2 separate regions of the Homo sapiens genome follow, and region 2 is linked to region 1. A link means that fine-mapping ties the variant in region 1 to the expression of a gene that starts in the linked region. Tissue or cell type: cerebellum. Region 1 holds a variant in brackets; the other region holds the start of a gene. All regions are shown on one strand. Distances are from middle to middle.

Region 1 (2,845 bases):
GAGAAGAACCCCCATTTTGGCTTGCCGTATAGGTTGCACCTTACCCCAGGGCTGTCACAGTTGGTTCCCTTGGCTACCACTGTGGCTGGGCCTCAAGAAACAAGGCTTGCAATCTAGCTTGAGCAGAGTCCAAAATCAAGATTCCTTTCTCTAGTTTTCTTGAGACAAATTAGTATTCTTTCTTAAAAAAATGTTAATTGACAAATAATAATTGTATATATTTATGGGGTTGCAATGTGGTAATCTCACAAGAAATTTTAGTAAAAATCAAGAGAAAGGAAAAGAAAAATGAAGCAAAGGACATAAAAACAGTCCAGCTAACAGAGCACATAGTTCTGCTATCACACATTCTCCCTTGCCCGGCTCACGTACCCCATGTGACAGCTGCTCTCCTGACCCTAATGGGCTGACCCGGTCCAACTGAGGTACCTAAGTTCCTCAGCTCCCAGCCTAAACATGGTAGCACTCGTGTCCCATCCTAGGAGAAATGCCCTTGACACTAATTAAGATCTTCCAGACTCCCCAGGGCTGTTTGTCTCACTCAGTTTCTAGTCTGAGAGACACATCATGTCACCACTCCATTGCAGGGCAGTGGTGAGCAACACCCTGTGAGCTAGGGAATGATCCAGCCCAGGCAGGTCTTGTGTATTGGCTCCACCTCTAGAGTATTCTGGGAATCTTCCCTTGGACAAACGACTTCTGTGAGAGACATAACTTTAACTCCACAGACCTACGATAAGAATTTCACCCACAAATAACAGGAGGGTCATTCTCTCACATACTCAAAGATATTTTATAACCAGAAAAATCAAAACAATTTTAAAAGAATTTCAAGCATTTGTTCCTGGAAATAGAAGTTGTCAACATATAAATATATATTAGTCTCTGTTTTATGACAGTTCCAGGAATGTTAATGTATATATAGAGTTAATTTTAGAGAAACAACTCATGGCTGTTTTTAAATTAGCTTTTATCTGTTATAATAGGAACTCATTGATGAAATTTATTTATGGAACTAAGGGTTTATTGTTTTCTCTGTTTTTTGTGCTTGCTGACTTGTGATTCTCAGGATGACAAGGTAATTATACCTTTTTTTTTTTTTAGTAAATACTTCTATTTAATCCTAACTTTAGTTTACAAGTATCCCCCAATAAAGGCAATTGATGCTTTCTGACCAAGTCTATTTTGATATTTTGAATTTGTAAGTGAATTTCCGATTTGACTCCTTCTGATTTGGGAAGTCAGTAGGGAAACAGTGGTTATAGTAGGCTCCAGTCTAGATTATAGAGGGGACTCCATGACTTCTAATTCATAGGCAGCTCTATGACTCACTGCCGTAGTTCTGGTAGGCTGTCCACAGGCTGGGGAGGGAAGCCCTTAACTTGGAGTACACTCAAAAGCACAGGCTCTCCTGAGCTCTCATATCTACCAGTGGCGGGCTT[G/A]TTGGTTAAGGGTGAAGGGGAGCCTGAGGAGCTGAGCACACTGTTCTTTGCTGCCATTTTCATCTCCCTGAGTGTAGAGTCCACAGCTAGAATGAAATGTGGCTCGTTGACGAGGTTGCAAAGTCAAATTTCTCTACCATATCCCTGTTTCTCTATGTACTGAGTGACAGATATTGCTGGAATTTTCCTATATAGCACAACCCTTTTAGAACTTCTGGTCACAGGCTTAAGAGAGACAAAGTTTGAGCAGTGAATCAGGAACTTCCTGAATGCTGGTGGCCCAAATCTGATCCCATTCCCCAAGTGCCACTTTTTAGCTAAGGTAGTCAGAATGAGGGAAGAACTGGTGACTTACCACCCAGGAGAGAAGCATACTAAGAAGCCTTTCTTCTCTTGGATTAGTTAATTTGATCAAGTTACCTCATTTGCTAAAAGTTCACAACCATACCATGTAAGTCCTGAGATACCAGAGCACACAGATAGCATTATTTGATGTAAACACTTGGGTCTTTGAAAGTTATTACTTATGGGTTTTAAAAATCTGAGTATGGCCCTTTATAAAACAGAAAGATTTTATTCCTTTCAGAGAAAGAGAAAAAAGAACCTCTTTGTAAAACAGGTACTAAAATATTTACAAAACATAGCTAAAAAAAATACTCTGTGGTTTTAATGGGAAAGATTTTTAAAATTCAATAAAATGTAAACTATTTATTAGTATATTTCATGAGATTATAGTTGGTCTTCTCAGAGGAAGCATTTATAAACTTACAAAAGGATAGCATTAAGAGAAAAGTGGTATTTTTTTTAAGGATTTTTAAAATACACATTGAAATTCAGAAACAAGCATTTGTAAGTCTCTGATTGGCATTAAAGTTATCTTGGAACTTGTCTTTAAGATCATGGTATTTGAAGTGTATTTTATTAAGTCTGTTTCATTGCAAGGCCTGAGCTTAGATCATGTTTACTAAAGAATCAGACATATACTATTTAGACAAATATGTGGTCCAAAAGCTTTTGAGTTGAATTTTATGTGGAAATGTTTCCATTTAGACAAAGCCACTGGGTTCTGAAGTATATTGTTTTTTAGAGGCTACACAGCAGGGTTTCTTTTTTTGCTTTAAGTTTTGGGATACATGTACTGAATATACAGGTTTGTTACATAGTTCCATGTGTGGAACTATGTTCCATTGTGGTTTGCCAGCAGTGATTCTTATCTCTTACTCTTGTCTAGAAAGATAGAGTAGCTGAATAGGAGAAGATTTTGAAATTACATTGCTTGTCAGACAGATTTGACTAAACGGAGAAAATTAAAAAGAAAATTAAAATGTTGGAAAAAAGTTATTCTTATATAAAATAATTAATAATTCTGACCTGCCAGATGTTTATTTCAAAAGCTTAAGTAC
Region 2 (2,672 bases), 180 kb before region 1:
TCGTGATAGAAATGGTCTACCAGATTACCATGACAGGCACTGGGGACCAGTTGTAGTTCAAAGAAACGAGAGATGAGGGCACTACAAAGAGGCAGGGATTAAACAAACAAAAACAGCAACAACAACAACGACAACAATAAAGAATGAAGATTATTCAACCAGAAACGACAATGAGGGTGGGGAGAAGATAGAGGATGAAGACAGCGCAGGGTTGGGAGTAGAAAGACCACATTCTTGTGCTGGATGTTCAAGGATCACCGTGAGGAGAGTGAGGGCGGCTTTGCCCTTTTGATGTTGAGTTAAACTGTAATACAGATTTTCCATGTAAGTACTCCGTCATTTTCAGGTGGCAACCGGATAAACTTCAGGTGCCACCATGGAGCCGACAATCACCAGCAGCGAACAGGACGGGAAGAAGGCTGGGACAGAAGGGTAGTTGCATCTCCGCAAACGCACAGGTCTAGGAAAGAGGCACCTGGGCTGTCCCCGGGCTATCTCGTTTCAAAGTCACTTAAGTTTCTGTAGCTTAGAAGCGGCCCTTGCCCTCTGGTATCGGGAGACGACTTTGCTGCAGACATCGAGGTGCTCGGAATGACCTTGGTGATCAACCTTAACCTGAAATTCCCGGTCCTGCATTGCCCATCTCCCGGGTCACTGCTGCTGACAAGGCTCTTCTACAGTCCTGGGTTATTCTACAGTCTTTCAAGAGGGCTTCCCCTAAATCCTCTCCCTAGGAATGCTTGGAAGGACGGGAGGAGCAGCCTGGAGGCTCCCATCGTTTATTCGGACACAGTAACAGCCCGTGCCATGGCTGCGCTACCGCGGGAGCTAGGCTCCGCAGCAGAGGGCCCCGGGCTCGCTTCGGGGTGGGGGCGCCCGGGGTGTGCCGCGCCCTCGGGGCTCACGTCCCGGGCGGGTTTCCGGGCCTCGGCAGGGCGCGAGGCGGCGGCGGGGCCGGCTGGCAGGCTGATGATGATGATGCTCTGTGCTCGTAGCCGATGGGAGGCAGCGTGAGCCCGAGAGAGCCCAGAGCAGCCGCGGTGGCAGCGCTGGAGCGCAGCCTCCTCCCGCTCCCATAATGCACAGGGCGGCGGCGGTGGCGGCGGCGGCAGCGGAGGCAGCATCGCGGGCCGCCGAAGTGGCTGCGGCGGCGGCGGCGACCCCTAGGACCCCGGGCAGGTGGAGCGCTCGCGGCTGCTCGCGGCGAGCCCGGGAGTGATGGCGAGGCCCCTGCGGGCGGCCAGCGCCTGAGGCGCCCCGCCCCGCCCCGCCCCGCGCGGCCCTCCCCGCCCGGCCCTGCCCTGCCCTGCTCCCTGCCGGCGGCTGCGGGCGCTTCCTAGTCCGCTCGGGCGGCCGCCCAGGCGAGGTGCGGCCTCCGCACAGGCGGGGGGCGTAGGCGCGCGGGGCCCGCCATGGCTGCGTCGGAGCTCTACACAAAGGTAAGGCACCCCGCGGCCGGCGTCGAGGACTGGGGCTGTGCGGCCCTCGCCGCCAGCTGTCAGGCTGGGGAGGGGGCGGGAGCGCCGGGCCCAGGCGAGCCCCACCAGCGCCATCCCCTTCAGCGCCTCAGAACCCTCGGCCCTACCAGCCGGTCGCCCGCTGCGGCACCTTCCTCTTTCGGGCGAGATGGTGAAGGCGGCGGAAGGTGGCCCGCCTCGGGGGTCTCCCAGGCCCCTGCCGCGCTGCTCGAGCTGGGGGCAGAGCGGGCTTCGGAGTGGAAAGGGGGCCCATGTGGATTTAGCAGGGCGGGCGTGCCTCCCCTCCTGCTTGGCTTTGGAAAATTCCCGGCGGGTGGGAGATGCTTGCTCCAGTAGATCGGATGGGTTCTCTCGTGGGGACACGCGCTTAAAATAACGTCTTGTGTTGGTATGCAGTGCCGCTTCTACCGCCAGCTAGCCTTTCTGTGAGGTTATTTTGAATCCTGCAAACGGTGGCCGTATCACCTTTAGCTCCCCAGTTTAGCTGCGCTGGGGGTGGCGAGCCCCGGGGAAAGATGCTGCCGGATGAACGCGAGCTGATTCACCGGCTGGGAGGGTCGGTACTCATTTATCGCTGGGAGTTTGCAACCTGCGTGTAATCCCGCAGAGCCTTGTTAGGCTCCATGTCTTTACCATCCTCTGGGGCAAGCCTTTCCCTTCTGGGTTTGGTTTAAGGGAAGTGGCAGTCTTTTCTTAGACTGACATCAATATACTCAGGGTCTGGCGATCTCTGAATGACATATTATGGAGAACTGTCACTTGAGTGCTGCGCAGATTTGTGATGACCTTTGTGAATATATGTAATCATGGCATTTTATACTGTACACTCATGTGTAGGTAGATATTTTGCCAGATATTGATTACTTCTACATGCAGTTAATAGAGTTGCCTTTTCACATTAGCTTTTGCAACAGAACTTTCATTTAGGGTCCTGTAATCACTGGAATCATTGTTTCCAAATGTCACTGAAGTCCAGGGCCCAAGTTGCAGTGTGTTTTGTAGAGGAAAGAAGACTGGGCATCAAGAGACCTGGATTCAAGCCGGGACTTACTAACTGTGACCTTGGACAAGTCACTTAACATCTCTGGTTCGATTTCCTAATGAGTAAATGCAGTTAATTATACTTGCCTTGCATCCCTTACAAGCTGTTGTGAGAATCAAACTTAATAATCGTTGTGAAAGCTTTTTGTAACC

Alleles and levels. Positions count from the first base shown, and alleles are read on the strand shown. Sizes are in standard deviations (SD) of each study's normalised expression.
As copies of G replace A in region 1, the expression in cerebellum of the gene that starts at base 1,339 in region 2 goes down (large effect, 0.77 SD a copy in GTEx).

What was found. PIP is the estimated chance that this variant, and not a neighbour inherited with it, causes the effect.
Region 2: MYO5A starts here. The variant in region 1 is the best candidate, but not a certain one, in a credible set for the expression of MYO5A in cerebellum (GTEx, PIP 0.58).

What each region holds. Positions count from the first base shown.
Region 1 is chr15:52,347,051-52,349,895 of GRCh38, reverse strand. MYO5A (myosin VA) reads left to right here. Exons shown (of 42, transcript NM_001382347.1): 29 at 1,070-1,078. Among named protein-coding and RNA genes, the nearest start is that of MYO5C, 53 kb to the right of the region's middle. The variant G/A (reference allele first, on the strand shown) is at 1,443.
Region 2 is chr15:52,527,547-52,530,218 of GRCh38, reverse strand. MYO5A (myosin VA) reads left to right here and starts at 1,339. Exons shown (of 42, transcript NM_001382347.1): 1 at 1,339-1,439. The coding sequence starts at 1,413. RefSeq lists a silencer at 810-1,689.